Homo sapiens: one gene and its partner. The protein of the gene in region 1 interacts with the protein of each later gene in a biochemical or structural test. Each region holds a gene or a part of one and is shown on either strand. Other genes may lie near its edges.

Region 1 (4,036 bases):
TTTATCCATAATGAGGAAAGGAATAAAAGATATAGCTTTATCTCTTGTAATTGTCTAATTGCACTAAAACATCGTGGGCCCTGAATTTTACCGCAGTCATTCACCACATAACGACATTTTGGTCAGTGATGAACTACATCTACGACAGTGGTCCCATAAGAATATAATTGAGCTGAAAAACTTGCTACCTTATGACATCATAGCGCAACATATGATTCATGTTTGTAGTGATACTAATGTAAACACACCTGTGCTGCCAGTCATAGAAGTATAGCACATACAGTTATTTACAGCGTATAATACCGTCGTGCATTGCTTAATGATGGGATGCATTCTGAGAAATGCCCTGTTAGGTGATGTCATTGTTGTACAAACATCATAAAGGGTACTTACACAGACCTAGGTGGTATAGCCTCCTATTACCCCTACGCTATATGGTATGGCCTGTTGCTCCTAGGCTACAAACTTGTATGGCATGTTACTATAAGAGAATACTATATACTGAATACTATAAGAGTGATTAACACAATGGTAAGTATTTGTGTTTCTAAACATAGTGAAGCATAGAAAAGGTACAGTAAAAATGCAATATAAAAGAAAAATTGGTACACCTATATTGGGCACTTGCGGGACTGGAAGTTGCTCTGAGTGGTGACTGAATATGAAGGGACATTATTGTACATCACTGTAGACTTTATAAACACACTTAGGCTACATAAAAAGTAAAACTTTAAAATTCTTAACTTCTGAATCTTTTGTAATAACACTTAGCTTAAAACACAAACACGGCAACCTGCCCGGGTCCCCTTCCACACTGCGGAAGCTTTGTCCTTTCACTCTTCATAATGAATCTTGCTACCGCTCCAAAAAAAAAAAAAAAAAAAATTGTACAGCTGTATAAAAATATTTTGTCTTCATATGCTTACAGGCTTTTTCCTAGTCTTAAACTTTTTTTTTTTTTTTAACTTTTTAAACTGTTGTTAAAAACTAAGACACAGACATAATTAGCCTAGGCCTACACAGGGTCAAGATCAATGGTATTACCATTGCCACCTTCACAGCTTGTCTCACTGGAAGGTTTTCAGGAGCAGTAACACGCATGGAGCCATCATTTCCTGTGATGGCAGTGTCGTCTTCTAGATACCTCCTGAAGGATCTGGCTGAGGCTGTTTTAGAGTTAACTTTTTTTTAAAAAATATAGAAGTAAGTGGTACACTCAAATAATGATTAAAAACTCATTACCGGCCGGGCGCTGGGCTCATGCCTATAATCCCAGCACTTTGGGAGGCCGAGGCAGGTGGATCGCCTGAGGTCAGGAGTTCGAGACCAGCCTGGCCAACATGGTGAAACCCCCTCTCTACTAAAAATACGAAAATTCGCCAGGTGTGGTGGCAGATGCCTGTAATCCCAGCTACTGGAGGTTGGAAGTGGGAGCGGGGAAGGCAGGAGAATCGCTTGAACCTGGGAGGTGGAGGTTGCAGTGAGCTGAGATCGTGCCATCGCACTCCAGCCTGGGGGACAAAAGCAAGACTTCATCTCAAAAAAAAAAAAAAAACCTCATTACCAAAATCCTTGCATACTTAAGTCCCACAGTTGGCCCTGGAGAACCTGCATATACCAAAAGCTAGCCCTCTGTATAAGAGGGTTTGAGCATCCCAAGAATACTGTATCTTTGATCTACATTTGTTTGGAAAAAATCCACATATAAGCAGTTCAAACCTATGTTGTTGAAGAGTCAACTGTATAGTAAATACTAGGTGACAGAAATTTTTCAGCCCCGTTATAATCTTGGGGGAACATAGTCCCATATGCAGTCTGTACTAGACAGAAAACATCAGCACATGACTTCCTGATAATGACAGTTAAAAACCGTATTGCCAGTTTATGTATTTACTATATATACTTTTTATTTTAGAGTGTACTCCTACTTTTTAAAACAGCTTTTCATGGTAACTGGTAGCAGCCTCATACAGCTTGTGTTCACTGTGTCTCTTGATTGCATCATTCTTGTGCATGGTTTAATCTCATGGTATTTTGTTCATCATGGCCCCTAAGCATACAAAATCCATAATGTTGCCAGTAAGGGGCCATGTTGAGTGATTGACCTGGAAACAGAAGTGATTAAGGACTACGAAGGTGGAGAATCAGTGATGGTTATTTCTTGCCAGTCAGGCTTGTCCCATTTTACCATAGCTATGATCTTGAAGAACAAGAACAAAGTGACAGAAGCTGTTAAAGCATCTGCTTCATTGAAGGCAATGAGACTAACAAAAATTCAAGAAGGGCCTTTATCAGACACACACAAGCTTCTGATGACCTGGATTGAAGAGCAGACACAGGTGCACACGGTGCTGTGTACCTCTCAGCACCATGATGATCCCAAAGCAAAAAGTGTGTTTGAGGTGTTGAAAGAAAAGGCTGGACCTGGCTGTGATGTTGAATTGACTGCTAGTTCTGGGTGGTGTAAACAATTCAAGAATCGTTATTCATTACATAATGGGAAAGTGGTGAGTTTGTGAGTGCTGATGTAAAGGCAGCGGAAGAATTTTGGGAAACTCTAGATAAGCTGAGTCTGGAGGAAAATCACTTGCCAGAACAAATTTTCAATATGGATGAAACCTTTCTATTCTGGAAACAGATGCCTGAAAGGACTTTGATCCATGAGGTAGACCAAAGCAATGCCAGGCTTCAAGTCTTTTAAGGACTGGATGACAGTCTTGCTTGGGGGCAATGTTGCAGGCCACAAATTGAAACCCTTTGTGATTTGGCATGTTGAGAACCCTAGGGGCTTCAAGCATATCAATACACACACACTTGGCCAGTGCACTGCAGGAGATATAAGAAGTCGTGGGTGACCCTGCTCCTCTTTCAAGATGCCCTCCTGAATAGATATGCCTGCGAAGTGGAGAAGTAGTATTGAGAGAATAACATACCCTTCAAGCTTTTGCTTATTGTCGCTGATAAGCAAATGCCTCCTTTAAGTGGTGTTTTTCATCCCAGTATCAAACACCACCTCTTTGATCCAACTGATGGAGTTACAGCAGCTTTTAAGGCGTACTATCTGAGAAAGGCCTTTGTCCTGTCGTCGCAGCTTAGGGAGACACTGAGAAGATTCTGATACAATTCTGGAAGGATTGCAATATCTGTGACTGCATTAAGAATCTTGCTTGGGCTTGGGTTGATGTCATCAAGGAGTGTATGAATGGCATCTGGAAGAATACACTCAAGAGGTTTGTCCATGACTTAAAAGGATTTGCATAAATCACAAAGTCTGTGATTGAGATGGCAAACAACTTTAACCGGGGTGTGGATGAGGACAACAGGAGCTCCTAGAGGTGATTCCTGAGGAATTGACTGGTGAGGAGCTGTGGGAACTAGAACAAGTTCCCGCATAGGTGAAGAGGAAAGAGAAAAGGAAACTGCAGGAAAAGCAAAAGAAGAACCCTCAAGAAAATTCAGTGAAGGATTTAGCAGTGCAGACCTCAGCAAGCTCCTTAAGTCTGAAAACACGTGGCCGGGCTTGGTGGCTCACGCCTGTAATCCCAGCATTTTGGGAGGCCGAGGCTGGTGGATCATCTGAGGTCAGGAGTTCAAGACCAGCCTGGCCGACATGGTGAAACCCCGTCTCTACTAAAAATACAAAAAAATTAGCCGGGCGTGGTGGTGGGGCGCCTGTAATCCCAGCCACGAGGCTGAGGCAGGAGAATCGCTTGAACCCGGGAAGTGCAGGTTGCAGTGAGCCGAGATTGTGCCATTGCACTCCAGCTTGGGTGACAAGAGCAAAAAAACTGCATCTCAAACAACAACAAAAAAGTTTGAAAACATGGATCTCAATACCAAAAGGTTTTTATTAATAGAGAAGAATATTCATGGTTCATTATCTGCTTACAATCAAATCTATGATGAAAAAAGGAAACAAAGCACCGTGGGCTTATTCTTGGTAAGTGTGAGACCTCCTCAAGAAAAGCCTAAGGCAGGTCCTTCTGCAGTTATCCAGAAGAAGGCATTGTTACCATGGGAGATGGCAGTTCCATGT
Region 2 (2,533 bases), on another chromosome or scaffold:
GAAACTGAAGCACATAGGGATAAAATAACTTCACATACATAAATAAACCAAAGCATTCTAATAATTTCATACTATAGCTGACTGACCAAAACAGCAATCACTTAACTTTGTGGTTTGGATATTTCCTTGTAAAATATCTTATTATAAGTTATTTCAATAAATCATCCATACAGTATTTCCAAAATATAAACTGTATCAATAGTGTTAGACAATATTAGGTTACCTCTGCTTCATAATATATATAACTGGTATCTGAAAACCACACAAGGATCCATTTCAATACCCTTATGGATGTCAGATATCCAGACCAGACACTGGGCAAAATATCAAAAGTGAGGAAAAGGAAATAAGGAAATGGGCATTCATCTGGCAAGCTATGAAGTATCTTCCCTTTCTATCGAAGGCTTTCTAAAACTCAGATGCAATGAGACAAATTTAAAAACTGTAGATTGAAGGCTTTTAGAGGTAGTCACTACAATCAGTTCATCTGAGAAATTGCATCATTATCACAAGCATTTATTGAGTACCCATAGAACTCATGGTACCTTCACGGTGTTTACAGAACTTTGCTTATATGCCGACCTTGCCCTTAAGGAGCTTACAATCTAGTGGAAAGAAAGACGGAGAAACTCAGATGTGATAGAGCAATGAGTGAACAGATACTATAGACTGAAAAATAACCATAAATGTAAAACACATACTGAAAAATGAGGGTTAATGGGGATGGCAAGGATGATAGGTAGGCCTGGATATACTCCTGACTTCTTGAAGGAGTAAATATCTAGAATATTCAAGGACGTAAAGTGCGGTTGAGAAAGCCAGGATGCAAACAAACATTTCCTATCTGCTGTGTATTTTCTTGCTCCCTGCAGCTGAGAATTGCAAAAAGAAAACAGGGATAGAGATAATGGGTAAAAACTTTTTAGTATTCTTTTAGTACTTCTGTTTCTGAATTAGACCGAACAGTCACCATGTAGGTAACTTAGCTATCCTAGATCATCCTAAACTGGTTAAAAGGAAGATTTTAAAAACTAGCTTGTCTATATGAGTTCTATAAACATATGTAATTTTACCTTAACTAAAAGGTTAGGATGACTAGGACTGCCACTATGCTAAAGACCACTCAACTGAATATAATACTGACATGGCAGAAGTGCGAGTTTTATCAGTGATACACATTGTGTACTGCATTGGGGGCTTACTAGATGTGTGGCGGAATATACCCATTTATGAAGGCAGCACATCGGCAAGTAAAAATGTAAGTGAAGGTAGGAAATACCTAGAATACATGATGTTTTATGCAGCTGAACAGGACAACCCTGAAAAGACAAGAATTATGGTAATACCAAAGTGACTAAGGTTGTCTTGATTCCCCGCCCCCACCACAATTATGAATCAAAAGATGGAGTCTTTTTTTTTTTTTTTTTAAGGTAAATACCCTCTTTAGCTGAGTCCAAGACTTTGGATATTAGATTACTGTACCTAAAAAGAGTAAAATGGTGGCCAGGCGGTGGCTCACGCCTGCAATCCCAGCACTTTGGGAGGCCAAGGAGGGTGGATCATCTGAGGTCAGGAGTTCGAGACCAGCCTGGCCAACGTGGTGAAACCCCATCTCTACTAAAAATACAAAAATTAGCCGGGCGTGGTGGTGCACGCTTGTGGTCCCAGCTACTCAGGAGGCTGAGGCAGGAGAATCGCTTGAACCTAGGAGGTGGAGGTTGCAGTGAGCCAAGATGGCACCACTGCATTCCTGCCTGGGCAACAAGAAAGAGTAAAATGGTAACTATGCACAAAGGATGGGGGAAAGGTGGCTCACAGGGCTTAAACATCAGAGGAATGGAGAGGACAGGACAGTGAGGGAATTATCTGGAAGGTAGGTAACTGGATTGAGAACCACAAAAAGCATGTAGATTTAAGCAGATTACGAGTCATTTTAAACAGCTGTTTCAAAGTAAGAGTAAAAACAGGCTGGAGAAAATCTTGGGTAATATTAGAGTAACATAGTCTAGGATAGGAATCCATCAGTTATGGAGATCAGAGGTAAGATATAGTCAGGGAAATTAGGATTCATGCTTGAAGAGTAATAGAAAAACCTAAGTGAAACAGGTTATTGGAATTTTCTTTATGAAGAATAAAAGTGGAAGAACTGATAGTCTGGAAAGGTGAAGTAATCTGGAGTAGGCAGCTACAAAAGGTATAAAATTTGTGGAGAAGGCAAAAATTGGGGCAGAAAATATAAATAACAAGGGAGTACTGCAGTCCTCTGGTGGGAGGTAGATCATAAAGAATCTGTAGAACCATTTACTTTTCCTCACAGTCAACTGCTCTTACACCCAGAGCAGTAGCTGTCAAGTCAATTTTATTGAAAATACACTGGACTTGGACATCCTGAGTCAAACTGCCATCACCTAAAGGGCCTGGATTTAAAAGGAATTTTCAAGATTATTGTTAACTTCTGGGTTAAGTGTTTAGGGAAAAAAATGTTAAATCTACTTTTCTTATACATGATTGGTGTGCTTAGTTTTTTATCAAT

The links.
Region 2: the proteins of ADNP (region 1) and KPNA4 interact in a test that uses a peptide from one of them, tested with the Homo sapiens proteins (one study listed by BioGRID).

The regions. Positions count from the first base shown.
Region 1 is NC_000020.11:50,896,717-50,900,752, reverse strand, and holds part of ADNP (activity-dependent neuroprotector homeobox protein), read left to right. Parts: intron 1-4,036.
Region 2 is NC_000003.12:160,494,507-160,497,039, forward strand, and holds the end of KPNA4 (importin subunit alpha-3), read right to left. Parts: 3' UTR 501-2,533; downstream 1-500. UniProt on the Homo sapiens protein: Functions in nuclear protein import as an adapter protein for nuclear receptor KPNB1. Binds specifically and directly to substrates containing either a simple or bipartite NLS motif.